Linked DNA regions of Homo sapiens: regions 2, 3 and 4 are each linked to region 1. The links come from fine-mapping of genetic effects on gene expression. A gene starts in region 1. Each other region holds a variant in brackets. All regions are shown on one strand. Distances are from middle to middle. Region 1 holds the start of CECR2 (CECR2 histone acetyl-lysine reader). Region 2 overlaps CECR2 (CECR2 histone acetyl-lysine reader). Region 3 overlaps CECR2 (CECR2 histone acetyl-lysine reader). Region 4 has its middle 23 kb from the start of CECR2.

What was found. PIP is the estimated chance that this variant, and not a neighbour inherited with it, causes the effect. A credible set is the group of variants that fine-mapping cannot tell apart.
Region 2: its variant is the best candidate, but not a certain one, in a credible set for the expression of CECR2 in subcutaneous fat (GTEx, PIP 0.82).
Region 3: its variant is the best candidate, but not a certain one, in a credible set for the expression of CECR2 in lung (TOPMed, PIP 0.56).
Region 4: its variant is the best candidate, but not a certain one, in a credible set for the expression of CECR2 in lung (TOPMed, PIP 0.58).

The regions. Positions count from the first base shown.
Region 1 is chr22:17,366,267-17,373,769 of GRCh38, forward strand. CECR2 (CECR2 histone acetyl-lysine reader) reads left to right here and starts at 3,194. Exons shown (of 19, transcript NM_001290047.2): 1 at 3,194-3,643. The coding sequence starts at 3,518. RefSeq lists silencers at 3,452-3,521, 3,532-3,631.
Region 2 is chr22:17,474,579-17,482,081 of GRCh38, forward strand. It overlaps CECR2 (CECR2 histone acetyl-lysine reader), which reads left to right. Exons shown (of 19, transcript NM_001290047.2): 2 at 3,010-3,104. Among named protein-coding and RNA genes, the nearest start is that of SLC25A18, 85 kb to the right of the region's middle. RefSeq lists an enhancer at 1,090-1,643. The variant G/C (reference allele first, on the strand shown) is at 3,139.
Region 3 is chr22:17,400,351-17,407,853 of GRCh38, forward strand. The region is part of intron 1 of CECR2 (CECR2 histone acetyl-lysine reader); the gene reads left to right. Among named protein-coding and RNA genes, the nearest start is that of CECR2, 35 kb to the left of the region's middle. The variant T/G (reference allele first, on the strand shown) is at 3,728.
Region 4 is chr22:17,342,797-17,350,299 of GRCh38, forward strand. No RefSeq gene overlaps it. Among named protein-coding and RNA genes, the nearest start is that of CECR2, 23 kb to the right of the region's middle. RefSeq lists an enhancer at 4,263-4,557. The variant T/A (reference allele first, on the strand shown) is at 4,290.

The DNA.
Region 1 (7,503 bases):
CAACCTCTGCCTCCCGGGTTCAACCAATCATCCTGCCTCAGCCTCCGAGTAGCTGGGAGTACAGGGGCGTGCCACCACGCCCAGCTAATTTTTTGTATTTTTAGCAGAGACGGAGTTTCACCATGTTGGCTAGGATGGTCTCGATCTCTTTACCTCGTGATCCGCCTGCCTGGGCCTCCCAAAGTGCTGAGATTACAGGCGTCACCTACCGCCCCGGCAAACTGTGTGTTTTTAAGGAAGATGATTCAACTAGTGTTTCGAGGGTGAAAGAATGGGCCAGGCTGGAGAAGTACAATAGCACTCCGAATCAAAGGGAGAAGGGAAGAAGGGTGAGTGGCCAGCCTATTGGTAGGGGGTCATTAATCTAGATTCTAGGAGGTTAGGCTGGAAGTTAGTCCAGAAAATAGATCCGAGGCAGTTAAGTCCAAGGGGAGGCGTGGCACAGATGTTCAAAGCAGGGTCAAAGATTCAGGGTATCAATCCTAACAGGGCCAGAGAAGGTCCAAATGGAAAAGCTCTGGTTGGAGCCCAAACTCGGGGAACTCAAGATTGAGATTTACTGTTGATTCCAAGACACTTGAGACCCCTCAGCTCCTGGGGCCAGGATCCGTTCCAGAGGGTAGTTGAGGCCAGAGTAGCAGGGTAGGTGGAGGAACTAGGGAAAAAACTGTAGAGACAAACAGAGTTAGAGAATGGTGGGAGGAAATGGGTCTAAAGTTGGTGTGCTGGGCCACAGAACAGAGAAGACCCTCAGAAGGAAAGGGCAGCAGAAGGGAGGAGGAGCCCTGAGAGACAGGGCGGATCTCCGAGCAGCACCAGGGGGCGCGTGCCGTTCCCGGACAGTCTTGTTGATTTCCGGGGCTTGGCAGTAGGCGGAGGAGGCAGGAAGACAATGGCTCAGCCTTTAAATTGGGGCTGGGGTGGTGTTTGTAAACGACATTAAACACACTACCGTACTAAAAGGTAGCCAAATCATCTCATCCCTCTGCTTGCTGGTGTCATTAATATCCTAGGCACTAATATTACTAGGCTGGCTAGTGGTGACAACTGAGAGGCGAGGGAAGAAGCTTAAACGATGACAAAAGATAAAGGCAGGGAAACGCAGTAACACTTTTTTTTTTTAATTTTTATTTTTTGAGACGGAGTCTCACTCTTACTGCTCAGGCTGGAGTGCAATGGCGAGATCTCGGCTCATTGCAATCTCTGCCTCCCGAGTTCAGGCGATTCTCCTGCCTCAGTCTCCCGAGTAGCTGGGACTACGGGCGCCTGCCACCACACCCATCTAATTTTATGTATTTTTAGTAGAGACGAGGTTTCACAATGTTGGCCAGGCTGGTCTCGAACTCCTGACCTAAGGTGAACCACCCGCCTCGGCCTCCCAAAGTGCTGGGATTACAGGCGTAAGCCACCGCGCCCGGCCAACTCACACAGAGGAAAAAGTGTGCAAAGTCAAACTGTGAGGAAATAAAAGACGGAGAAGCAAGTCCAGAAAGCACCTCGTTCAGGTTACGTGACAATTCCGGGGTGGCCTGTGTCCCTCTCCCATCTCCCTTGCTAATGCAATACTCACGGGGTAGCTGTGCTTCACCAACACACACAAACGTAGGCTTGGCTTTTTGGGAGCAGTCACATGTGAGCTCATTTTTGCCAAACATTAAATAAAAAGCATGGTAGAATTTGAGGATGCACTTTAAATCATCAAATAGTTCCAGGGAATGAAAGAGCAGAACTTTGGGTTGTTTTTCTGTGCCAGGAGAGAGTGGTGGGGGGCGGAGGAGACCCTTGTTAGAAGATGATGTATTTTGAGATTACTAGATTCACAGAAGATGCACGTGAATATACTCTAACCATTTAAAATTATGTTTCTGAATGCTGCCTTAAAAAATACAACAAGTTATTATCATAATAAAGTGAGGGAGAGTGGAGGGGTAATTATCCAGACAGCCCATTCCAAAATCTATCATATAAATTATCTCCAGATTGTACACTACTTAAAGGTAGAAGAGGATCTTTGAGTTTAACCCTTGTACACTTTGTGATTGTGCCTGTCACTCAATAAATAGTTGATTAATTTGGGGGACGCACCAGGAGCAGTGTTTCCTATCTGAAAGGTGGACCACCGAACTCAGAGGCGGCCCTCTGAGACCAGCAGGATGCAAGTGCGACGACCAATACAAATATCTGAGCATTCAATGGAGTTTTTCCAAACTTCTAGCCTGTTTCTGGGGTGATTTTTTTTCTTAGGATTTAGCAGTACTCCACCGCGCTACAGCAGTTAGCATTTCTAAAGCACACACTCCAACACCCTTCGGCCGTAGCACATTCAATCCCTCCGCCGGGGCGTGGGGGTCTCCTCCCCTCCGAGCACAGTCCCCGGCTTCCCGATCTCCTCTGCCCCATCCCCCCGCCTTCCAAGCACATTGTGCTCACTCTTCCAGGCAGCTCTTTCAGCGGCCGGGCAGTAGCAGGGTTCCGAGCCCGTCTTCTCCGGGGCGGTCACACGTGTCCATTCCCTGGGGTTGGGGATCGCTCTTCCCGCTTGGCTGCTGATTGGTGCCTCCCCCTACCCCACCCTTCCCGCCGCTCTCCAGCCTCCATCCTACTTCGTTCCAGCTCAATCAGCCCCACCGCCTTCTTCCCTCGGAGAAAAAAGCCACTTCAGAGCTCCTTGGGCGCCGTTCTCGGCTGGAATAAAAGCGTTAAGAAACAGGTGGAAAGCACTTCACTTCTCTAGGCTTCATATTTCTAGGGTGGACAGCCCGCTCCTGCTCCGGCTCTGCCCTCGGCATCAATAATAACTGAACTCCCACACGTGCACGTTTCTGTCTCTAGCCCGACCGAAAGGACCACCCCGCGGGCCCTTTAAAAGGACGCGACCACTCAGGCCAAGTGGGGGTGGGAGAGCTCCTGGCCGTCCTCCCTTGGGAAAGTGCTTCAACTCCCCAGTCCCAAAGTCCTGGAGGGCGGAGGGCGCCTCGTGAGAGTTCTCGGGGGTGCGGCCCGCGCCCCCTGGGTCCTGCGGATCTGGGCCCGGGGGCGCGCGCCCCGCCCCTCCCCCTCCCTGGCGGTGCAGCTGTCCGGGCGGGGGTGGGGCGGGGGCGGGGGTTGTTGTTGTGGCGCGGGCAGCCCCGCCCCCTCCTCGTGGGCGGCCCCTCCCCCAGGCCCCGCGTCCGGCCCCTCCGCCCCTAGCCCCATCTGTTTCTCCGGCGGGGACTCGATTATATTGTAGGGGACTGGGGGCGGCCGCCGCCGCAGCCGCGGGATGGGGCGAGCGCGCGGACCCCGCGGGCAGCCGCAGCCGCAGCCGCCTCAGTAGTTCGGGCCCCCGCGCCGCCGCCCCCCGCCCGGCGCCCGCCCTCGGCTCCTGCACTCGCCGAGCGGCGGCAGCAGCGGGAGGAGCGCCCCGCCGCCCCCGCCGAGGACCGCGCGGAGGCTGCGGCGCTGCCGCGGCGGGAGTCCCAGGTCGGCGGGCAGAGCGCGGGCAGCGAGGGGCCGCCGCCTGTGCCGCAGCGGGGAGATGTGCCCAGAGGAGGGCGGCGCGGCCGGGCTGGGCGAGCTCCGCTCCTGGTGGGAGGTCCCGGCCATCGCGCACTTCTGCTCGCTCTTTCGCACCGCGTTCCGCCTGCCCGACTTCGAGATCGAGGTGAGTGGCCGCGCGGGCGGGAGGCGGCGCGCTGCGCCCCCTGCTCCCCCTGCCCCGCGCGGGGTGTCCCGGGCCGTCGCGCAGAGGGGCCGGGGCCCGAGGGACTTCGGCCGGGAGTCGGGGGCCAGGAGGAGGGCGCAAAAGGGCAGGAGGGCGGGCGGGGGCCGCCGGGCTGTGCCCGGGTGCCGAGGGGCGTCGGGCCGGGGACGCCGGATCCTGGGGTGGAGGAGCAGGCACCGCGAGGGCGGGGCGGGCCCGTGCTTTTGTGGGAGAGGGAGCGGGAGCGGGACCCGGCGACCCTCCCGGGACTTCTCCGGTGGGCTGGGGCTGGGTGTGGGCGCGAGGGCTGCGCGCGCTCGCCGCCCGGTGCCATTGAGGCGCGAGCCAGCTGCTCCGGCGGGGCCGGGCGCGGGGGGGGGGCCCGCGCGGGATTAACTCGGACCGGGGCGGGAGTCGGCCGCGGCCGGCGGGGAGGGCTAGCCCCGCTCTGGCGGGCGGGCGCGTGGCAGGGGCTCCCGGAGGCCCCAAGCTCCCGGGAGGCGCTCCGGCCAACTTCGGGCCGGTGGGGACCGGGCCTGGGCGCGGGGCTCTGGAGGTGTGGAAGGAAAGTTTGGGACTCCGTTATTCTTCCACAGCGTCCTTCCTCCCGTAATATCCAGCCTCTTTATCGCGGGGCTCGGGAGCCCTTGGAGTTGATCTCGCCACCATTATCCCCCCGGGCGAGCGCGGAGGACGGGCTGGCCATTCTGGCCAGGCCGGAGGTGTTTTCCAGCCCGGGGCTTTGTGATAACTGGGCCGAAACCCGAGGGTCCTGGAGCGCGGCGGGTGGCGGGAGCTTGCGGAGCGCGGCGCACTCGGCGGCCAGGCATCGGCCAGCCCAGCGGCAGCCCCCTTTCTCCTATTTTTATTTTTATTTTTGGAAGGAGCTGAGAATTAGTCGATTGGTTGGCAGGTTGAATTGCCTTCTCTTCTATGGCAATATGTGTCGTGACTTTTCACCTTTTGCCTTTGGACAAAGGTGAATGGCAACTGCGTTGGTCAGTTTTTGTTTTCTGTTCTGCGGATGGGTTCGCCGACGCAGTAATCAAAATTAGAGCCACTCTTTTGGAAGAGCAAATCGTTGTTGTTGCCTCCCCAGCCCCACGGATCTTACTTTGTGCCATTTTCGGGTTGATTTTAACTCGTTTATTTCAGAGCTCTTTGCCTCACCTTTATTTTTAGATTTAGTCGTGTTTGCTGAAATATCAGTTGCTTCTTCTGTGAATGAAGTGTGGGAACTTGCTCTCGTCGCAGTTAATGAAATCAGGAAAATAAAAAGATCAAAAGGGTTGGGGATGGGAGAATGAAGAGGAATGTAGACAGATAGTCTAGGGCCACTCACTGGCTTTTGGCGATTCTTAGTTCCTTAAGCTGATTAAAACAATGTGAGGAAATGTGGGCTTCTCCACTTTTTAGGAAGAGGTAATAACGGGCATTTTACGTGGCGCCACAGCGTTTGTTTTCAAAGTTTGAACGTGAATGTAGCAAGCATAATTTTATTAATGAAAATATTCTTTAGACAACTGTTAATATTGACGAAAGAAGAGAAACAGAGACACGGAAGCTAAAGAGTTGGGAATCCTAAAGGTCAAAGGATGTTTCTCAGTTACTCTGATGTCCTGTGTTTTCTTTCAGTTGGTACAAAATCGTGAGTAGTTTAATTATATCCTGCAGTCAAAATGGTGGCTGTGGTGGGAGGTGCCGCCTGTGACAGGGCCATCTTGGGTGCTGGTAAACTTGCACCTAGTCCCTTTTCTTCCTTGCGAGATAAAGTTGAGGTGGTGCTGGGATTATGAGTTCAGAGTTTAAAGACCCATCCTAAAAATATTGTTGGAAAAACTTTATGTCTCAAAATCCATGTATTCCCATTTTGTTGATGAAAAGCTAGAGGTAACTCATTTTGCCTTAAGTACTCGCAGCATATTTAGAGTAACCTGTAAATAACTTGTCTTCTGTTATAAGCAATAAACTTGTGGTTTCTGAGAATTAGCTGGTTTAATTCCTAAAGGAAATGTAAACTGATTAAAGAGGTCAAATTTATATGTATAACATGAAAAATCACTGTAGTTTACATGGTGAATAATCAAGGCTATTTGATATGACTGTCCTCTCTTTTGACTCCAGTGTTTCTTGGAAATGACACTTTTTTGGGGCTAAAATACATGCTGTTTGAAATACATGCAACAGAAATGAATATTTGGCTTCAAACATGCAGGTTTTAAGAACTATCCACACTCGTTTTTATTTGGAGATGTTCAGTCAGTGGATAACAAAGTGACTTTTCTCACCTGCAGTTTTTGTCTAATCCATCTCAGGTATGTTTTGATATGGCTAATGGAAATTTTAACTTACGCTTTTTAGTAGTTATCAAAAATTAGAATTTTATTGGGAATGATTATATGTGAGATTTAAAAATTAAGATTTAAGAATGTATTTTCTCGACTCGGTGGCTCACCCCTGTAATCCCAGCACTTTGGGAGGCCGAGGTGGGTCGATCACCTGAAGTCAGGAGTTCGAGACGAGACTGGCTAACATGATGAAACCCCGTTTCTACTAAAAATATAAAAAGTTAGCCAGGCATGGTGGCGCGCTCCTGTAATCCCAGTTACATCCGTAGGCTGAGGCAGGATGATCGCTTGAACCCGGTAGGCGGAGGTGGCAGCGAGCCGAGATCGTGCCATTGCACTGCAGCCTGGGCGACAGGGCGAGACTCTGTCTCAAAATAAATATATTAATTAATTAAAAGATAAAAAATTCAAATGCCGAGCCGTACCTGTTAGGCCATGTGGAAGGGCCCTACAGTCTTAATTTTCTGCAACTTTAAAAGGTAAAAATGATAAATAATAGCAAGTAGTAGAAGTTGGGTATCAGTTATTTCAGGAAACCAGTTTTCAGCTGTGGGAAAGATCTCACCAGGCTGAACTCATGGATTTATAGAAAATTGAGGAAGCAGAGTCTTCAAGGACTCGGCTTCCATTTATCTAAAGTGAAGCAATCTCTAAGACAGGTGAAGGGCTGGCAGGATTCATGCCCCACTTCTCCAAGAGATTAAGACCTTCCACTTAGAAAACTGTCCCCAAAACGTGGATATTTTTATTTTTGTGTGTATTAAATAAATTTTTTGTTTTTTCTGAGACGGAGTCTCACTCTGTTGCCCAGGCTGGAGTACAGTGGCGCGACCTCGGCTCACTGCAACCTCCACTTCCCAGGTTCAGGTGATTCTCCCGCCTCAGCCTCCGGAGTAGCTGGGACTACAGGCATGTACCAGCACACCCGGCTAATTTTTGTATTATAAAAAAACTTTTTACTCTATTAATCAACCTTGAATATACAGGATTGCTTTAGAAGAGTCAACGAATACTTGGTTCTTAGTTTTAGATAAGAAACCTGCCAAGTATATAATAGTAATGCCTTATCTCAGTTCAAAATTCCTAGTTGTAAAAATACTAAAAAAAAATTATATAAACGTGAAAATTATCATAAAATACAGGTAAAAATTAAAACCACCCATGGTCACCAATCAGGGATAAAAGTTAACTGTTAACATTGTATCCTTCCACTCAGGGATAAAAGTGATTCACTGTTAACATACTTAGAAATTCCTAAATATGCCCGCAGTGTAATTGTTCTGTAGGTTAGATGTTTTTGCTTTTCAGATGAGATTGAGGTATAGCTGGAAAACAGATGAATGACACTGAATTCAGTAGTTGATATAAACAGATGAATGACACTGAATTCAGTAGTTGATATAAACAGATGAATGACACTGAATTCAGTAGTTGATATCATTAAGCCCCTACTTTGTGCTTAACATGGAACTT
Region 2 (7,503 bases), 110 kb after region 1:
TGGAGGATAGTATTCTAGCTAGAACCTAGGCAGCGCTGGTGAAAATGGCCATGATAAAGGCGGAAGCCAGAAGAGGATGTCTGTGTGCCGAAGGCGGAGATGGAGAAAAAGGTAATTAAATTTCTTGGAAACCACATAGTAAAAGTGATCCTCTAAGGAGATGCCACATGAACCATACGGCAAACTTTATGCAGTCACCTCCTTGAAAACACCCTCCCAGTTCTTAGCTTATCTTCTCAAATGTGGCCTTTGTTATTTATTTATTTCTGTAGAGATGGGGTCTCGCTATGTTCCTCAGGCTGGTCTTGAACTCCTGGCTTTAAGCAATCCTCCCATCTCAGCCTCCAGTGTTGCCTTTATTATTTAATTTGGTACTTCCATGCTTAAAAAAATCTTAGGAGAAATTAGTTAGTACAGACTGTAGCACCTTTAATCACGATCCGATTGTGCTCTTAGTTTATGATGGCAGGGAAGGGAACAGAACAGGACGTGTAGAAACCTGGGGATGCATGGACGCCACAGTGACAGTGAGCACTGGTGGGAGCAGCGTGGGGGAGCTTGGCTGGGAAGACTTTGCAGATAAAGTTTCTCCCGTAAAGAACTGCAGTACAGTTCAGCAGAGGGACGGGATTTCCACCTAGGGAGAATGGTACATGTGAGGGCTCTTAGAGAAAAGACACAGTGGTTGGGGCGGTCACTGTAATTGTAGAAACCATCAGGCCTTTCTAGAATGGAGAACATTGGCCGGGGGGAGCAGCTTGGTTTTGGGAAGAACACTGTACTCGGTGACCTGGGTTTCCACTCAGCTCTGTCACTGATTTGCTTAGTGCCCTTGGAGAAGCCAGTTAACCTTTCTGGACCTAGTTTATCTTGCTGTTGTTGTTTTTTCTCCCTTAAAAGAGACAGGGTCTTGCTGTGTGGCCCAGGCTGGTCTCAAACTCCTGGGCTCAGTGATCCTCCTACCTCAGCCTCCCAAGTGTCTGGGACTGTAGGCATGCACCACCACACCCGGCTAGTTTCTACATCTTTAAATTGAGAGAATGGAAATACGTGATCTGTAGTTTCATTTCCGGCTCTAGCTGATTCTGACTTACCTATCAAATGAGATTGGCCTGGGAGTTTTGGCTTTGAAGATTTTGCTTCTGTTGTAAGTCACTGGGAGGCTTGCCCAGTGCCCAGCTTAAAACATGAGCCATTCAAGTCTTCCCTCGCCTCGGCTGGCCTTTACTTGTGGCAGATCTTGAATTCCTATTTCTCCGTTCTCTCATTTAGTAAGTCCTTTAGAACCTTCCTCTTGTGCTGTTGCTTGGGCTAACATCTCCCCTCCCACCCTCTACCACTAGAATTCCTTGTATATACACAGCAGCTAGATTAGTCTCACTTTGCCTCTCTATAGAAATAAACTGAGGTAGATCTCCATTGTCTCCCGAAGAAAGGCCAAACTCATTAGCTGGGTATTCAGGATCGCCTGTCAATCTCAGCTCACATTACTCCCCTTCACATAATCTAAAGAATAGTTAAACTGAACCTAATATCCTCCTGCACCTGGTCATGCCCTGCCTCTCTCCATTGTCACTCGGTCACAATTACCATCTCACGAAATCTCCCAGGCTTCCACAGCAGAAGTAACCCTTTTCTTCTCAGCTCCCATAGCGTGTTTTCTGTACCTGCTAGTACTGATTGATTTGTGTTTTTTGTTTGTTTGAGACAGTGTCTCACTCTGTCGCCCAGGCTGGAGTACGCTGGCACGATCTCATTTCACTGCAATCTCTGCCTCCTGGTTTCAAGCGATTCTTGTGTCTCAGCCTTAGTAGCTGGGATCACAGGTGCGTGCCACCATGCCTGGCTAATTTTTGTATTTGTAGTAGAGACAGGGTATGACCATGTTGGCTAGACTGGTCTCAATCTCTTGACCTCAAGTGAGCCACCATGCCTGGCCAGAGCCGTATTATTTCTATATAAGAAGGAAACCCCACCCCGTTTTGTGTCTGCTATCATGTAATTGCTGTTAAGATCACAACTTGCATCTTATGCACATCTCGTACTTTTCAGAACCGTTAATAAGATTGTCAGAAGTTTGGTTTTTCTGGGGATTACTGATCTGGTTATGAGCAAGTCAAACCATAGGGAGCAGACTCTTGGGAAATGGTTTGCATGCAGAAGATTGCATCCTGGTTGAAAGAATGTGGGCAAACTTTTCTAGTAGGAGACTTGATGGCCTAGAAAACATTCTGTCATCTAAGAAAATACCTGCTTATTTTGGGGGTGTTGGGAAGGGAAATAGGATCTCCTAAAGTTCCCCACCACCACTTTTTGTCCAGTGGTCCCTTTCCAAACAATTGCTTGTTGGAATACCGTGTCGAGGCAAGCTGAACCCCAAGGAAAGCAAAGACATTCACAGAGACGTTACCTCATTCTGTTTAGATGATGTAAGATTAGCCTTGGATCTCGCAATCACCTTTCATCAGCCATGTAGGTGTGGCATCCCAAAATAAAAATTGTCATTATCACTTACTAACAAATGCCATTCAAAATACAGTGGTTCTTTAAAGCTGTTGCAGATGGTTTATCTCTTGAGAAGGTTGAGTAAATGACAAATGTTTCATAAACAATTACATGAGCACTCCTTTCCTCTCTTTTGCGATTAAAATAGCAGTACAGCACATTTGTATTTATACTCGATTATATATAATCAAAGAGTTAAGCTCTTTAATTATGCAGCTAGCATTGATTTATCAAAAAGAGTTATGTGTGTTTCTTCTCATGTGCCGGTAAGAGGAATGGGGTTGGGGAGGGAGTAGTGAGAGAAATAAAACCCTGGGAAAAAGAAAACGCGGAATCCGGTTGCTCTTCTCACAGTAGCCAGAAGGAAGGGCAGAGCTGATCTCTGGCAAGTCCTTCCGCTGCTGGGACCATTCAGTTCTTGGGGCTTGTGCTGGCGGTAGGAAGGGGTGTGTATTTTAAGAAATCTCTGTTTGATTTCTCAACTTCCCTCTCTCCCTCCCTCAGGAGTTAGAAGCCGCTCTTCACAGAGATGACGTGGAGTTTATCAGTGACCTGATTGCCTGCCTGCTTCAGGGCTGCTATCAACGAAGAGATATCACGTGAGTAATTCTGATCTTTCTAAGCATTTCTTGC[G/C]CCAAGAACTAATTAACCAACCATAGTGATGTTTCCTGTCTCCTGTGACAAACCAGAACCGATCATTAGGCATCACGGGACACTGTAGATGGAGGACGTACACGTAAATTTCCAGGCTGTGTTTGGCTTATTCTGCAGTTGGGTTTTTATTCCATCATAATCTTTGAGTTTATTTCATTCTCACAAATCCATATCACTTACTCTTGGATACCCCAGCTAACATATTTTAGTGTAGAATTTCTTCTTATATTTGCCATTTTCTGATTTTGCAGTATTGGTAAAGTATTGCCTAAGAAATCAAAACTAGTTTTTATTACCTTTCTGTCATTTGAGTATCTTCTGTTGTTTACATAGCCAGCAGCACTGATGTAATAAAAAAAAAAGAGAGATGTGTAGAGACATTGAGCAAAATGTGATGTATGGAGACAAATAAAGGAGAGTCCTGATAGGACCTCTTGTTTTGATCTTTACTTAATACACGTTTCTTTGCTATGTGTCTATATAGGACAGAACTACAGGGCAAACTCACAAAAAGGTGAGATGCAATGGGTTTCCTGGTCTCTTGCCTTCTGATGCCATGTAGGGGGTTTGAGTTGTTATGGTTTGCCTTTCTCAGATAGGTAAAATGGTATCAAATTTTTTTTTTTTTTTTTTTTTGAGACGGAGTCTCACTCTGTCGCCCAGGCTGGAGTGCAGTGGCGCAATCCCGGCTCACTGCAAGCTTCACCTCCCAGGTTCACGCCATTCTCCTGCCTCAGCCTCTCGAGTAGCTGGGACTACAGGCACTCGCCACCACGCCCGGCTAATTTTTTGTATTTTTAGTGGAAATGGGGTTTCACCGTGTTAGCCAGGATGGTCTCGATCTCCCGACCTCGTGATCTGCCCGCCTCGACCTCACAAAGTGCTGGGATTACAGGCGTGAGCCACCGCGCCTGGCCAAGTATCAGATATTTTTGTTCTAACGAATTCAGTCTGTTAGGGCTGGGAAACGATGCTTGTTGTTAATGTGCAATAAAGTTGTAGACAAGGTAAGAAGGAGATGTAAATGCTGTTTTTCTCAGGGTGGAAGTCTGCATTCTCTAGGGGAGAGTTATTGCTCGTGCACTAAGTATAATGACTTTTCCCCCTAGAATACCCAGGTTGTATTTGTAAATAAAAATAAACATAAAATATACCTTAGAATATTTTCTTCCGTTCTCTATTTAGGATGTAGACTTGGGAGTTTGTAATTTTTAAGCACTGTTGTATTCGTACCTTGTGTTTAATTCCACATTTTCATAACCTGGAATTTTTTTTCATTATAGCAATCAGTTTTCTTATAACCACATTTTCTAAATGTCATTGTCAAATAATCCAGTCTGGTAGCTGACAAGTTATGTCTAGCTTTTAGCTGTTATAAACATATATAATGCATAGCTTTGTACAAAATTCACCAGGTTCCTGGAAGTACATCACTCAGTCAAAAGATATGCCCATTTAAGATCTTCATTTTAAGCAAGGCTTAAAGGCTTTTGCCAGGTTTCCCGTCACAGAGGTGGTTGTATTTTAGCCTTAAATGATCAGTGCGTGAGAGTGTCTGCTTGGATGATCCTTGTGAGCCCTCTGTACACAGACTAGTAGGTACTGGCAGCACAAACACTCACCAGATCTCTTAGAGTTCACAGTTGTGACAGGGAGGTCCATGAATCATTACAGTAATGATTATATAGTTGCCAGTTATGTAATTACAACAGTAAGTGCTTAGAAATAAAAATACAACATATTAACAGAGCATACAACCTGGGGTAAGAAAGTGACTTGTGAACTGAGCCTTCACATATGGGCTGTTTTCTCTCATAGGATATTCCTCCGTGGCTGAGTTCATCCTCTAATTTGTCCTTCTGTTTAAAATTGATCTTAACTAATTCTGCTTGTTTGTTCTTCCAGATAGTGGTTACAAAGTTATGTCCTGTTCTTTAAGAACTCCCCTTATCTAATCATTCTAACTAGAATCAAATAAACCTATGAAGAAATGTGGGCAAAATTGACATCCCTACAATGTGGTCTTTCTTTTTTTTTTTTTTTTTTTTGGGACAGGGTCTTGCTGTTTCACCCAGGCTGGAGTGCAGTGGCAGGATCCTGTCTCACTGTAGCCTCAACCTGGGCTCTAGCAGTCTTCCCACCTCAGCCTCCTGAGTAGCTCAGGACAGGACTGTGCCACCATCCCCAGCTGATTTTTAACAATTTTTTGTAGAGACAAGGTCTGTGTTCCCTGGCTGGTCTTGAACTCCTGGTCTCAAGCGATCCTGCTGCCTTGGCCTCTCAAAGTGCTGGGATTACAGGTGTGAGCCACTGTGCCTTGCCCCTACAAGTATTTATTAAATAATAGAATACCGTATCCCTGTATCTGTCTTTAATTTGCAGAGTTTATTGGCCTTGATTTTTTTCTTGAGTTAGTATTCTTTTGACTCTCTAGGATTATTATCTATCTCTTTTTTCAGTGTTAATACTGATGTCTGCTTCAAGCTGTATTATCCATTGTTAAGTAACAAATTACCCTAAAACTTAGCAACTTAAAACCACAAAAAGTGTAATCTTACAGTTTCTGTGGGTCAGGAACCTGGACAAACCACTACTGGTGTGTTTAGCTCGAGTTAGCTTACAGGTCTGTGATCAAGGTACCAGTGACAGCAGTCATCTTGAAACTTACTACTCATGTATAATACACACACACACACACACACACACACACACACACACACACAGAGAAAAGTGCTCATTTCCTAATTCTAAAGCTCAATGAATTTTCACAAACTGAACACACCTGTGTAACAGAGAACCTGGACAAGAAAGAACACTACAATCTACTTTACTTTTTTCCCTGAAGGGAATTGCCTAAAATGATGGTTCCACATGCGGTTACTGTGAATGTACACTCGTTCTTGTCTGAAGTTCTACTTTGATCTCATTCTAAAGAAAGAGAAATTTGGATAAGTAAATGTTTACCTGTTATGCCTCCAAGACTAAACTGTTCTATGCAGCTTAAAAAGTTACTTAATTTCGGCCGGGCGCAGTGGCTCATGCCTATAATCTCAGCACTTTGGGAGGCCGAGACGGGCAGATCACTTGAGGTCGGGAGTTCAAGAGCAGTCTGGCCAATGTGATGAAACCCGGTCTCTACTAAAAATACAAAAATTAGCCAGGCGTGGTGGTGCACGCCTGTAGTCCCAGCTACTCAGGAGGCTGAGATGGGAGAATTGCTTCAACCCGGGAGGCGGAGGTTGCAGTGAGCCAAGATCGCACCATTGCACTCCAGCGTGGGCGAAAGAGTGAGACTCCATCTCTTTTTTTTTTAAAAAAAAAAAAGGCCGGGCACGGTGCCTCACGCCTGTAATCCCAGCACTTTGGGAGGTGGAGGCGGGCAGATCACGAGGTCAGGAAATCAAGACCATCCTGGCTAACACGGTGAAACCCCGTCTCTACTAAAAATACAAAAAATTAGCCGGGCGTGGTGGTGGGCGCCTGTAGTCCCAGCTACTTGGGAGGCTGAGGCATGAGAATGGCGTGAACCCGGGAGGTGGAGGTTGCAGTGAGCCAAGATCGTGTCATTGCACTCCAGCCTGGGTGACAGAGCGAGACTCTGTCTCAAAAAAAAAAAAAAAAAAAAAGTAACTTCATTTAGTTGTGCATAATTCGCCTCATCTATAAAATGGAATTAGTGACAATATTCAGTAAAGTTATTATGAGGATTAAACGAAATGATGAGTGAGAGTAATCATCATGAAACACTATGCCTAGTTCCTCCAAAGGCTCAGCAGAAAACAGATTTTGACTCAACCAAGTGTCTGTATCCTTTTCCGTTGTGGTTTGCATGTTTTAGAACAGGGGCCAGCAAATGTTTTTTGTAAAGGGCCAGATAGTCAATACAGGCATGCATCACATACTGTCATTTTGTTCAGTGGCAGACCTCATGTACGACAGTGGTCACACGAGGTTGTGATAGACACAAAAATTTTTATCCCCTAGAGATATTATTGCCCTTGTAACATGCTTGCACATGCATTACTCATGTGGTTATGGTGATGCTGGTGTAAACAAACCTAGTGCGCTACCAGTCATATAAAGACCTAGCACTTACAGGCCAGGCGTGGTGGCTCACGCCTGTAATCCTAGCACTTTGGGAGGCCGAGGCGGGCGGATCACCAGGTCAGGAGATCAAGACCATCCTGGCTAACACAGTGAAACCCCATCTCTACTAAAGATACAAAAAAGTAGCCGGGCGTGGTGGCGGCACCTGTAGTCCCAGCTACTCGGGAGACTGAGGCAGGAGAATGGCATGAACCTGGGAGGCGGAGCTTGCAGGAAGCCGAGATCACGCCACTGCTC
Region 3 (7,503 bases), 34 kb after region 1:
GCCAGTCACTGAGGTGTGTGGAGTAGATGAGGAGGTCTGGAATGGATAGCAGGGTACAAAGTCACTCAGTGAAGATGCTTGCTGGGTGTTGAATAAGGTTAGAGAAGCTAGGCACACCTGCCAACTCTCTTTATCCTTAGGAGGCTCTTGAGAAATGTCCTTTTTCTCGTGAGTGATTTCATTTCTGAAGTCTTTGTTTTATGGCGGAGCTGCATTCTGACTCCCAGGCTGGCTGACATCTTCATTTCTCCCAGGCTTAAGAGCGAAGGGAAAGACAGAAAGTCTGAGAAGGGCAGAGAAGAGGGAGGTCAGAGGGTTTGTTCTGTAAATACCTTGCTGCTTATCCAGGTAATTGGGATCTCACTTGCCTGTGTATAGTTTGTTGGCAGGATCCCAGGAGAGTCTTTTTTGTTTGTTTTGAGACAGGGTCTCCCTCTGTTGCAGGCTGGAGTGCAGTGGCATAATCTCTTGCTCACTGCAGCCTCAACCTCATGGGCTCAAGCAGTCCTCTGGCCTCAGCCTCCTTAGTAGCTGGGACTACAGGCGCATGCCACCGTGGCTGGCTAATTTTTTGACTTTTGTTGTTGTTGTTGTTTGGTAGAGATGAGATCTCACTATGTTGCTCAGACTGGTCTTGAACTCCTGGGCTCAGGAGATTCTCCTGCCTTGGCCTTCCAAAGTGCTGGGATTACAGGTGTGAGCCACCGCGACCAGTCCCCAGGGGAGTCTTATTCTTGCAGGATTTTCTAAAGACTTCTTCTAGAACAAGTGTGACTACAATTCAGAATCTTCATCTCCCCTAAAGAAAGAGTGTTCCAGAGGTGAGGAGGGACGGGTGACAGAAACTGGTAGCTGAAGAGGTTTGTTGATGGATTAGTCTATTTATTCATAATGCTTGATATCAGAAGACCAGAAGAATATTTTTGCAACTTATTTTAAAAAACAGCTTTACTGAGGTATAACTGACATAATCTACTGCAAATATTTATGTGTACAATTTGGCAAGTTTTGACATATATATACACACTAGTGAAACCATTACCACGTCAAGACGAACATGTCCGCCAACGCCACGCGAGGGTGTGATATCCTTGTGTCCCTTTGTAATCTCTTTGCCCCCGTCTCACCCCAACCTGTGTTTCTCTCAGGGTGACCCCCCCAATCTGCTTTCTGTTACTGTATGTTAGTTTACATTTCCTAGACTTTTACATGAGATATACGCTCTTTTGATGTTGTTCCTGTTCGTTCTACTCAGTGTAAATGGAGATTCATTCATTCTGTAGCATGCGTCAGTAGTTGATTCCTTTTTATTGTTGAGTACTATGCCAGTTGAGGGATAGATAGTACTATAGTTTGTTTATTGAGTGCACCTATTGGCAAAAATTTGTGTACCATTCTTTAGACACATGCCTCCGTTTCTCTTGGGTAAGTACCTGTAAGTAGAATGACTGGGTCATATGGTAGGTGAATATTTAACACCCCCCCCCGCCCCCGCTGCCTTTTTTTTAACAGATGGGGTCTCACTGTGTTGCCCAGTCTGGTCTTGAACTCCTGGATACAACAAGCACTCCTCCCACTTCAGCCTGCTGAGTAGCTGGGGCTACAGGTGCTCAATACCATACCCAGCTCAACATTTTAACTTTTTTTATTGGAGACAGAGTCTCGCTCTTTTGCCCAGGCTAGAGTGCAGTAGCGCAGTCTCAGCTCACTGCAAGCTCCGCCTCCCAGATTCAAGTGATTCTCTTGCCTCAGCCTCCCGAGTAGCTGGGATTACAGGTGCCCACCACCATGCCCAGCTAATTTCTTGTATTTTTAGTAGAGACGGGATTTCACCATGTTGCCCAGGCTGGTTTCGAACTCCCGAGCTCAGGCAGTTCACCTGCCTCGGCCTCCCAAAGTGCTGGGATGACAGGCGTGAGCCACTGTGCCTGGCCAACATTTTAACTTTTTAAAAAAATAAATTTACTTTAGAATCATTTTAGATTTATAGAATAGTTACAATGACAGCACAGAGAAAGACTTCATGTATATCAGGGCTCAGCAAACTTTTCCTGTCAAGAGCCAGATAATAAATATTTTACACCAAATGGTCTTTCTTAAGACTACTGTGCTGATGTAGGGCAGAGGCTGCCATAAGACAGTGAGTAAATGAATGGATGTGTTCCAGTCAAACATTATTTATAAAAACAGGTGGTAGGCTAGATTTGGCCCTTGGATTGTAGTTTGCTGATCTCTTCTATAAACCCTCCACCCAGCTTCCTCTCATGTTTAATCTCTTATAATCATGGTAAATTTGTTAAAACTAAGACATTCACATTGGTGCAGTACTATGAACTAAACTTCAGACTGTTTAGATTCCAACAGTTTCCCAATCTTTTCTTTTCTTTCTTTCTTTCTTTTCTTCTTTTTTTTTTTTTTTTTTTGGAGACGTAGTTTCACTCTTGTTGCCCAGGCTGGAGTGCAGTGGCGCAATCTCGGCTCACTGCAACCTCCGCCTCCCGGGTTCAAGCAGTTCTCCTGCCTCAGCCTCCTGAGTGGCTGGGATTACAGGCATGTGCCACCACGCCCAGCTAATTTTGTATTTTTAGTAGAGACGGGGTTTCTCCATGTTGAGGCTGGTCTCGAACTCCTGACCTCAGGCGATCCACCCGCCTCGGCCTCCCTAAGTGCTGGGATTACAGGCGTGAGCCAGCGCACCCGGCAGTTTCCCCATCTTTTCATTTCAAGATTTGTTCCTGCATTCCACCTGACATCGCATGTCTCCTTAAGTCTGTTGTCATCAGCGTGGACTCATTGATACTTATCCTTTGGGTTTGAATCTAATACTGTTTACTTAGCTGCTCAAATTATTTCAAGCTTTGGCCATTGGAAATTCTTTCAGGTTGACTCCTTTCTCCTTTAGACATGTCCTCATTTTTTTCTTTTGGTACTGCCATTGTTTGGCTATACCCACTTTTTATCCATTCACCAGATGATGTATTGTTTTTGCTTTTGGATTGTTTTTGTTTGGGGCTATTATAGATAATAGCTGCACGTATTTGCTTGTAAGTGTGTGCTTTCTTTTTTTCTTGGACAAATACTTAGTAGTAGAATTGGAGTTATGTTTTAACTTCTAAAGAAACTGGCAAACTTGTTTTCCAAAGTAAACACACCAGTTTGTTTTCAACAGTAGTGAATAAGGGGCTCTAGTTTTTTCACATCATCAATACTTGTTATTTCCTGTCCTTTTGCTTATCACTATTCAGTAGTGGGGGGCGAAGGGCTATTTTAATGTGGTTTTGATCTGCATCTCCCTTATCATTAATAATGTTCACCTTTTTCTGTGTTAGCTATTTATATCTTTGGTGATCTTCTAGTTAAGGTATTCTGCTCATTTTAAAATTGGACTCTTTGTCTATTGAGCTGTTATATATTCTGGTTTTGCTTTTTCCTAATCTAAGGTCACAAAGGTTTGTTTCTTACATTTTCTTCTAGAAGTTTTATTGTTTTAGATTTACCATTTAAGTCTGTGCTTCATTTTGAATTGATAATTTGCATATGATATAAAGTACTGATCGAAGTTGGTGGGGTTTTTTTTGAGTGGGGAGGGGGCATGTGTTTAGTAGCATTTGTAGATAAGACCACCCTGGCCGGGCACAGTGGCTCACACCTGCAATCCTAGCACTTTGGGAGATGGAGTCAGGAGGATCACGAGGTCAGGAGTTTGAGACTAGTCCAGCCAATGTGG[T/G]GAAACCCCGTCTCTGCTAAAAATAACAAAAATTAGCCGGGCGTCATGTTGCACGTCTGTACTCCCAGCTACTTGGGAGGCCGAGGCAGAAGAATCTCTTGAACCCAGGAGGTGGAGGTTGCAGTGAGCCGAGATCGTGCCACTGCACTCCGGCCTGGATGACAGTGCGAGACTCTGTCCCCATCCCCCCGACCCCCCTGCCAAAAAAAAAAAAAAAAAGACTATCCTTTATTAGTTGCCCAAGTCAGTTTTCCATATACATGTGGGTTCATTTCTGGACCCTGTTCTTTCTTTTTTTTTTTTTTTTTTTTTTTGAGACGGAGTCTCGCTCTGTCGCCCAGGCTGGAGTGCAGTGGCGGGATCTCGGCTCACTGCAAGCTCCGCCTCTCGGGTTCACGCCATTCTCCTGCCTCAGCCTCCCCAGTAGCTGGGACTACAGGCGCCCGCCACTACGCCCGGCTAATTTTTTGTATTTTTAGTAGAGACGGGGTTTCACCGTTTTAGCCGGGATGGTCTCGATCTCCTGACCTCGTGATCCACCCGCCTCGGCCTCCCAAAGTGCTGGGATTACAGGCGTGAACCACCGCGCCTGGCCCTGGACCCTGTTCTATGTCATTGTTCACTCTGTTCTGTTTTCAAGACAATATCACAGTATCTTAATTAGTGCAGCTTTTAATAAGTAGTGAAATCAAATAATGTTAGTCCTCTCACTTTGTTCATTTTCAAAGTTGCTTTGGCTATTTTATATTTTTTATATTTCCATATGAATTTTAGAATTAGCTTATCAGTTTCTACAAAAAAAGCCTGCTAGCATTTAGATTGGAGTTGTATTGAATATCTAGGTCAATTTGTAGAAAATGGGCCTCTTAACACTATTGAGTCTTCTGACCCATGATGATGGTACCTCTCTCTCTCTAGGTTTTCTTTGATTTCTGACAGAAAAGTTTTATATTCAAATTCTCAACTCTTTAGGTATCTCCCATCTTTTGTCAGATTTATCCCAAAGTATTTCATTCTTTTTGATGCTATTATACATTTTTGAAAGTTTTAGGCCAGGCATGGTGACTCACACCTGTAATCCCAGCACTTTGGGAAGCTGAGGCAGGCGGATCACCTGAGGTCAGGAGTTCAAGACCAGCCTGGCCAACATAGTGAAACCTTGTCTCTACTAAAAAATACAAACAATTAGCTGGGCATGGTGGTGGACGCCTGTAATCCCAGCTACTCAGGAGGCTGAGGCAGGAGAACCGCTTGAACCTGGGAGGTGGAGGTTGCAGTGAGCCGAGATTGCGCCATGGCACTCCAGCATGGGCAACGAGAGCGAAACTCCGTCTCAAATAAAATAAGATAAGATAAGATAAAATAAGATAAAATAAAAAATATAAAATAAAATAAAATATAAAATAAAATAAATTAGACGGGTGTGGTGGCTGCCGCCTGTGATCCCAGCTACTCCAGAGGCTGAGGCAGGAGAATCGCTTGAACCTAGGAGGCAGAGGTTGCAGTGAGCCGAGATCGTGCCACTGCATTCCAGCCTGGGCAAAAGAGTGAGACTCCATCTCAAAAAAAAAAAAAAAAAAAAAAAAAAATTTTCAATTGTTTGCTAGTATTAGAAATAGCGTTGAGTTATATTACTCTTGTATCTGTAACCTTCCTAAACTCCCCCCTTTTAGCAACCTGTTTGTAGATTCCATTGGATTTTCTGCATAGATGATCATGTTGTCTGTAAATAAAAATAGTTTTGCATCTTTTTGCAATGTGGAAGCCACTACTTCTTTTTCTTACCTTAGTGCACTGTCTAGAGCCAACCATAAAATGTAGAGGCCAGAGTAGACATCCTGGTCTTGTTCCTCATCTTAGAGAAAAAGCATTCAGGTCTTCCCCTTTTCCCTTTCTATTTCTTCCTGCAGCCATGGGTTATTTAGAAATACGAATATATTAGAAGTGTATTAGTTATTAGAAGTGTGAAGAATATTAGTTTTCAAATATTTGGGAATTTTCCAGAGAGCTTTCTATTAATGATATCTAATTTAACCCACTTTAGTCAGACAAGACATTTTGTATGACTTGCATCCTTTTAAATGTATTGAGACTTGTTTTATGGCCCAGAATATGGTGTCTTTTGGTAAATGTTTCATTTTCACTTGAAAAGAATGTGTAGGACCGGGCATGGTGGCTCACGCCTGTAATCCCAGCACTTTGGGAGGCCAAGGCGGGAGGACCACCTGAAGTCAGGAGTTCGAGACCAGCCTGGCCAACATGACGAAACCCCGTCTCTACTAAAAAAATGCAAAAATTAGCCAGGCGTGGTGGCACACGCCTGTAATCCCAGCTACTGAGGAGGCTGAAGCATGAGAATCACTTGAACCCAGGAGGCGGAGGTTGCAGTGAGTCGAGATTATACCACTGCACTCCACCCTGGGGGGTGACAGAACAGGATTCTGTTCCTCCCCCCACCCCTCCCTCCAAAAAAAAGAAAAGAATGTGTATTCTGCTGTTCTTGGCTAGAGTATCTTATAAATGTCAATTCAGAGACTTCTTTATCTTTTAATACAATAGGGGTGAAATATGAAATGATTCATTTCCCTTCCCCAGATTCTTAGCATGAGTCTGGAAATCCTGCCAGCTCTTTCTTCTAGCTGAAGAGCTGTCTCCTGATTGCAGTGACAGCTTTGAACTGGAAGACATTATTTCATTAGTGCACTAATCAACCACAGAGATTACCTGATTGGCTGCTTAATAATTACATGAAGTTGCTTGTAATTCTTTGAGCATACACAGAACTAATTAAATTAACCCTTTACTGCCTGGCATGCCTGGGGTATTCTCGTGCGAAAATGGAGGAACCTAAAATCCTTCTTGAACACTGGTGAGGTAAACAAGCAGATGTGTCAGTGAGTTTCAAAGGGAAGCACCTTGTATAAGAAGCATTTAAGTACAAATCAAAAAATGCAGATTCAGAAACTACCAGTCCTTTGATAACTTGAGTATTAGCTTATTAGCCGTGTTCTTGAAGTTTAATGGGAAGCTTTTATACCAATACTTTCTTTGGATAGAAACTTAAGATAAACTCTTTTCATAGCCACTTACTGACTTTGAGGAGTTTGTTGTTGTTTTAAGGATCATTCAGTGTAAAATCATTTCCTTAGTTATTTCAGTATAAGCTTGCATCATCCTAGTGAGATATAGAGCAAGGCTGGTGAATGAGAATACCGTACTGGGCTATAATTGAAAGAGGCCGGGTGCGGTGGCTCACGCCTGTAATCCCAGCACTTTGGGAGGCCAAGGCGGGTGGATCACCTGAGGTCAGGAGTTCGAGACCACCCTGGCCAACATAGTGAAACCCCATCTCTACTGAAAACACAAAATTCGCCAGGCACGGTGGCGGGCGCGTGTAATCCCAGCTACTGGGGAGGCTGAGGCATGAGAATCGCTTGAACCTGGGAGGCGGAGATTGCAGTGAGCTGAGATCGCATCACTGCACACCAGCCTGGGCAATAGAGTGAGACTCTGTCTCAAAAAAAAAAAAGCCATGAATTAGAGGGCCTTATTTTAGCCTCAGGTTTTAGGTGGATGATTAAGGAAATTAAGATAGGAGAAGTTAGGCACCCTGTCTAACAGTGGTTCTCAACGGGGTGATTTGCCCTCTTAGAGGACTTTGGCGGTGTCTGGAGACAGTTTTGGTTGCCACAACTCAGGGGAAGAGGGGTGTGGGTAGAGGTCAGGAATATTGTCAAATAGCCTACAGTGCGTAAGACAGCTCTTGAGAACAACAG
Region 4 (7,503 bases), 23 kb before region 1:
TGCAGTTTTTCTTGTTTTGAATTTTTTATGTTTTTTTTTTTTTTTTTTTAGTTGTTGAGACAGGGTCTCCCTCTCTGTCTCTCAGGCTGGGGTGCAGTGGCTCAATCACAGCTCACTGCAATCTCAACTTCTTAGGCTCAAGTGATCCTCCTGCCTCAGCCTCCCGAGTCTCTAGGACCACAGGTGTTTGCCACTACACCCAGCTAATTTTTGTATGTTATGTAGTGATGGGGTTTCGCCATTTTGCCCAGGCTGGTCTCAAATTCCTGGCCTCATGTGATGCTCCCACATCGGCCTCCCAAAGTGCTGGGATTACAGGGATGAACCACTGTACCCGCTATGGCCTTAAAATCCGTTTTTTTTTTTTTTGAGACGGAGTCTCACTCTGTCACCACATAGGCTGGAGTGCTGTGGCACAATCTTGGCTCACAGCAAACTCTGCCGCCCAGGTTCAAATGATTCTCCTGCCGCAGCCTCCCTAGTAGCTGGGATTACAGGTGCTTAATTATTGTACTTTTAGTAGAGATGGGGTTTCACCGTCTTGGCCAGGCTGGTCTTGAACTCCTGATCTTGTGATCCACCCGCCTTGGCCTCCCAAAGTGCTGGGATTACAGGCGTGAGCCACCACGCCCGGCATTTTTTTTTTTTTTTTGAGACAGAGTCTAGCTCTGTTGCCCAGGCTGGAGTGCAGTGTTGAGATCTCAGCTCACTACAACTTCCACCTCCCAGGTTCAAGTGATTCTTCTGCCTCAGCCTCCCAAGTAGCTGGGATTACAGGTGCATTCAACCATGCCTAGCTAATTTTTGTATTTTTAGTAGAGACAGAGTTTCACCATGTTGGCCAGGCTGGTCTCAAACTCCTGACCTCAAGTGATCCACCCACCTTGGTCTCCCAAAGCGTTGAGATTCCAGGCGTGAGCCACCATGCCTGGCCATGGCCTTAAAATTATTTTGTAGAGGTGAGGTCTCCCTGTGATACCTGGTTTTGACCTCCTGGCCTCAAGCAATTCTCCCACCTTGGCCCTTGGCCTCCCCAAGTGCTGGGTATTACAGGCATGAGCCATTGTGCCCAGCCTCAACAATTTTTTTTATTCATTTCTTTTTTTATTTTTATTTTTCTTACTTCCTTTTTTTTTTTTTTTTGAGACAGCGCCTCACTTCACTGCCCAGGCTGGAGTGCAGTGGTGCAACTGCAGCTCACTGGAGCTTCGACCTCTTGGGCTCAAGCAATTTTCCCACCTTCACCTCCTGAGTAGCTGGGACTACAGGTGCACACCACCACACCTAGCTAATTTTTATTTTATTTTATTTTTTCAGACAGAGTCTCACTCTGTCACCAGGGCTGGAGTGCAGAGGTGCAATCTTGGGTCACTGCAACCACTGCCTTCTGGGTTCAAGCGATTTTTCCACATCAATCCCCTAAGTATGTGGGACTGCAGGCTCGCGCCACCACGCCTATCTAATTTTTGTATTTTTTGTAGAGACAGGGTTTCACCATGTTGGCCAGGGTGGTCTCAAACTCCTGGGCTCAAGCAGTGCACCCCCTCAGCCTCTCAAAGTGTTGGATTTACAGGCATGAACCCCTGAGCCCGGCTACTTTTTCTTTATGTGATGTGGATTTTTCTGTAGTTTTGTTTTACACATTGAGCATGTATTATATATTATTCTACTATATTATTCATTATATGACATACATTACTATGATTAGTAAAAGTGAATACTATTTTTAAAATAACACGTGGTCATTATGAGAGACTTCAGAAATACAGAAATGTATGAACAAGAAAAATTTTGAAATCACCCATAAAAATGCTCATGTCATTACATTAAGGGGAAAAGGATACAAAATTATATATATAATTTCATTTTCATTAAAAAATATTTATGTGGCCGGGCTGCGGTGGCTCAAGCCTGTAATCCCAGCACTTTGGGAGGCTGAGGCGGGCAGATTGCCTGAGGTCAGGAGTTCGAGACCAGCCTGGCTAACATGGTGAAACCCCATCTCTACTAAAAATACAAAAATTAGTCCAGGCGCGGTGGCTCACACCTGTAATCCTAACACTTTGGGAGGCCGAAGCAGGTGGGTCACCTGAGGTCAGGAGTTCGAGACCAGCCTGACTAACATGGAGAAACCCAGTCTCTACTAAAAATACGATATTAGCTGGGCGTAGTGGCGCATGCCTGTAATCCCAGCTACTCAGAAGGCTGAGGCAGGAGAATCGCTTGAACCCAGGAGGCGGAGGTGAGCTGAGATGGCGCCATTGCACTCCAGCCTGGGTAACAAGAGTGAAACTCCGTCTCAAAAAAGAAAAAAAATTCAAAAATTAGCCGGGCATAGTGGCACACACTTGTAGTCCTAGCTACTCAGGAGGCTGAGACAGGAGAATTGCTTCAACCTAGGAGGTGGAGGTTGCAGTAGCAGAGATCACGCCCCACTGCACCCTAGCATGGGTGACAGAGCAAGACTCCATCTCTAAAAAAAAAATTTATGTAAGGCAGGGCACGTTGGCTCACGCCTGTAATCCCAGCACTTCGGGAGGCCGAGGTGGGTGGATCACCTGAGGTCAGGAGTTCCAGACCAGCCTGACCAACATAGTGAAATGCCATCTCTACTAAAATTACAAAACTTAGCCGGGCATAGTGGCATGTGCCTGTAATCCCAGCTACTCACGAGGCAGAGACAGGAGAATCGCTTGAACCCAGGAGGTGGAGGTTGCAATGAGTCAAGATCGCGCCACTGCACTCCAGCCTGGGGGACAGAGCAAGACTCCGTCTCAAACAAACAAACAAACAAAATATATATATATCCTGACCCCAAGTGATCCACCCACCTTGGCCGCCCAAAGTGCTGGGATTACAGGCGTGAGCCACTGTGCCCAGCTGGCAATTTTGTTTTCTACAATACTGTGTTTTAGTTTATTTCTATATCTCTACAATTAGTATGTATTGTTTTTCCATTAAAATTTATCTTTTTCCATATAAAGGTAACACATAATCGTAATAGAATATTTGAGAAATGCACAAAAATAGAAAGAAGGTTGAGGAGGTGGCCATCGTTGTCATATAGCCCAAAGACAAACAATATTTTTACTATATTTCCTTAATAATAGTTACTTAAAAAAATTTACTGTGTGCCAGGAATACTTTGCTTATTTAATCCTCACAACACTATGAAGAAGTATTATTTTACCTATTTTAAAGATTAGTGCTCTGCCTTGCATAATTTTTTTTTTTTGGAGATGGAGTCTTGCTCCATCGCCCAAGCTAGGATGCAGTAGCGTGGTCTCTGCTACTGCAATTTCCACCTCCCAGGTTCAAGCAATTCTCCTGCCTCAGCCTCCTGAGTTGCTGGGACTAGAGGAGTGTGCCACTACGCCTGGCTAATTTTTGTATGTTTAGTAGAGACGGGGTTTCACCATGTTAGCCAGGCTGGTCTCGAACTCCTGACTGCAATCTGCCCACCTCAGCCTCCCAAAGTGCTGGGATTACAGGCTTGAGCCACCGTGCCCGGCCACACAAATATTTTTTAATAAAAATAAAATTATATATATAATTTTGTATTCTTTTCCCCTTAATGTAATGACATGAGCATTTTTATGGGTGATTTCAAAATTTTTCTTGTTTATACATTTCTGTATTTCTAAAGTCTCTCATATGAGACTGAAAAATCATAATTGTTTTTGGCAGAGCCAATTAGCACATTTAACATGACTTTTCTCCAGCGACAACAATGCAGCATCATCTCATCAGCCTCTTCCTGTAGGTGCTATTTTCCAGTGCTTTTCTGAAGCTTCTTTACATTCTCTACATGATACTGGCATGTGGCACCTTTATTCTGACAGCAGTGAAGGCCTGTTTAATGCAGGCTGAAAGGGTCATCTTCTAGTAGGCAAATATAAAATTGTGTAATCAAATCCCAAAAACCAATTACAGAAAAGTAGTTGAAGGAGATCTTGGCCTGACCATTTATTTATTTATTTATTTATTTATCTGAGTCAGAGTCTTGATCTATTGCCAAGGCTGACGTGCAATGGCACGATCTCAGCTCACTGCAACCTCCGCCTCCCCAGTTCAAGCAATTCTCCAGCTTCAGCGTCCTCAGTAGCTGGGATTACAGGTGCCCACCACCATGCCTGGCTAATTTTTGTATTCTTAGTAGAGTTTCACCATGTTGGCCAGGCTGGTCTTGACCTCCTGACCTCAAGTGATCCATTCGCCTCTGCCTCCCAAAGTGCTGGTTTGATTACAGGTGTGAGCTACCATGCCCAGCCAGCCTGACTGTTTATTTT[T/A]AAATTGGGGGGTTTCTGTTGTCTCTGGACTCAATATGAACCAATGGTGTGATGAGCTGCCAAAACCCTAATGCTAGCTTGGTTGTCTTAAGATAAACATGCTTATCAGCTCAAGGGAAGGAAGCAACACTGTCATACTGGGCGTTGGTGAAATAACTTTTGCTTTGTTTTGTTAGGTACAATCCCAAGAAGAACCTTGAGAAGGCTCAACAGGACTTTAAGAAGTCTTGGAATCGCGCCACTGCACTCCAGCCTGGTGGCAGAACAAGACTCCATCTCAAAAAAAAAAAAAAAAAAAAAAAAGAAGTCTTGGGCCAGGCTCCGTGGCTCATGCGTGTAATCCCAGCACTTTGGAAGGCTGAGGCAGGCGGATCACCTGAGGTCAGGAGTTTGAGACCAGCCTGGCCAACATAGTGAAACCCTGTCTCTACTAAAAATACAGAAATTAGTCGTGCGTGGTGGAACGCTCCTGTAGTCCCAGCTACTTGGGAGGCTGAGGCAGGAGAATCACTTGAACCTGGGAGGCGGAGGTTGCAGTGAGCCGAGATTGCGCCACTGCACTCCAGCCTGGGGGACAGAGCGAGACTCTGTCTCAACAACAACAACAACAACAACAAAAGTCTTGAATCCACGCTATGCGAGGAAGGAACGAGGGAAGGACCACAGCTCTGTCCTTAGTTCTTGGCCCCCCTCCCTTCCCATGTCCTCCCTGGGGAGCCTCCCGAAGGGCTTGCTACACCCTGCTGGCTCCCGCACCACGTCCACTGGGACCTCCCTGCTGGTCCTGTGCATCCGGCTGGTCATCAGCTCATCGTGCCTCAGGGTTACAACGTGTATACCTGCTTGCTTCAACTTTCTCTGAAGAGCCATAGTCTGGATTTCAGGCAGTGAGGTCATCCCTCGCCCAGTCACGCGAGTGTGGGATATGATGAGGTTTCTCTTCAAATAGCCCTATCAATCCTTTATTCTTTAATTCATATACCCTTAAACCCCTTTTTCCTTTCTCTCTTTTTTTCCTTTCTGCCTTTGTTACATGCCCAGACACGCCACAGTACCAGGCTTATCAGTACCAGCTCACATTCTTTCCTTATTTAAAAAAAAAGATGACCGGGCGCGGTGGCTCACGACTGTAATCCCAGCACTTTGGGAGGCCGAGGCGGGCGGATCACGAGGTCAGGAGATCGAGACTATCCTGGCTAAAACGGTGAAACCCCGTCTATACTAAAAATACAAAAAAATTAGCCGGGCGTGGTGGCGGGCGCCTGTAGTCCCGGCTACTCGGGAGGCTGAGGCAGGAGAATGGCGTGAACCCGGGAGGCGGAGCTTGCAGTGAGCCGAGATCGCGCCGCTGCTCTCCAGCCTGGGCGACAGAGCGAGACTCCGTCTCAAAAAATAAAAAAATAAAAAAATAAAAAAGACTAGCTCGCTAACTCATTACAGATACCCTTTCCCCTTTTCCCCTCTCTCCCTTACGTGTCCACCTTATCTAAAAAGAGTTCAAATGTCTAGCCAACCGGGATTAGTTCAGTTTGTGCGACCCGACCCTGGCCAATGGGGAAAGGGTACAGGGGCAGGACTTGGCATCAGGAATAAAGGCTCTCGTGCGCCTTTGTTCAGGTGTGCTCTCATGGTGACCGGCCAAGGAAAAGCACCCCTCTGCGCAAAAGTAAAATTGCTTTGCTAAGAATCCTTTGTTTGAGTGTTCAATCTCCTTAAGATTTTAAGTGTTATTCCCAACACAAGTAATCTAGGACACGTATTTCTCAAGCAGAACACACATCAGTCACCAAAGCCTGTAGGTTCTAGCTGCACAATATTGTCCTGACTCCTCCTTTTCTTCATGCCCTCTGCTGTTGCCTTCGGTTAGGACCTCACTGCTTCCTGCCTGAATTACTGACTTCAGCCTTTGTGACTTCAGTCTATTTTCTAACTCGTCTTTCTGACTACAACCTATTTGTTCCCTTTGCTTCTTCAAGCCATTCTCCATCATTGTGCCAATGTTCTAAACGTAAACAGTTTCTATCATTTTCTTGCTTAAACTCTTTCAGTGGCTTCTCCAAATGTGTCAGCATGAAGCTTTAACTGTGAGCTGAGCACAAAAGGACTTTCCTCACCTGAATCCTGTTTACATCTGTAGCCTCATTCTTCTTCCACAACCAACAAACATGCTTTGCCCCAGACACTCCGAGTGACGCGACTATTTTATGCCACTGCGCCTCTTAGCTTCCCCCTTGTCCACCCAAAGGACACATGTCCTTCAAGCTGCACTGAAGCATCTCCGTGTCCAGGAAGCGTCCTCTGGTGTCCTAGCTTAGTGTGGATGTTCTTTGTCCGTGCTCCCCATAACATATTGTGCCTACATGCAGATCTCTAATCTCTGATTTATTTGTTTGCCTTCCTCTCTAGACTTTAATTGCTGAACTGCATGGACCCTGGTTTACTGAACTTCGTAAATCTAAATCTACAGTTGGATACCGTGCGTGGCACAGAAAAGACCTTCAATAAATGATTTCTGGTTTCGTTTTGGTTTTGTTTTATTTACTGCTTACTACAACCAAGTACTGCTCTAGTTGCTGGATATGCAATAATGAACAATTCACACCTGGGTCCTGCTCTGAATAAATGAACAAATAAATATTAAATAAATGAAGTGGGAGTATTTACTTGCAGAAGAGAGAAATCTTAGAGTGGCACTGACTAGCGTCTTCAAGGGGCTATTATTACGTGGAAGAGAAAGTAATACTTTTTTTTTTTTTTGAGATGGAGTCTCATTCTGTCACCCAGGATGGAGTGCAGTGGCATGATTTCAGCTCACTGCAACCTCCACCTCCCAGGTTCAAGCAATTCTCCTGCTTCAGCCTCCCAAGTAGCTGGGATTATAGGTACCTGCCACCAAGCCTGGCTAATTTTTTTTTTTTTTTGAGATGGAATTTCACTCTTGTTGCCCAGGCTGGAGTGCAATGGCACAATCTTGGCTCACTGCAACCTCCCCCTCCCAAGTTCAAGCTATTCTCTTGCCTCAGCCTCCCAAGTAGCTGGTATTACAGGCACCCACCACCATACCTGGCTAATTTTTTGTATTTTCAGTAGAGAACGGGGTTTCACCATGTTGCCCAGACTGGTCTCGAACTCCTGACCTCAGGTGATTCACCCACATTGGCTTCCCAAAGTGTTGGGATTACAGGCGTGAGCCACTGCATCCGGCCAAGTAATA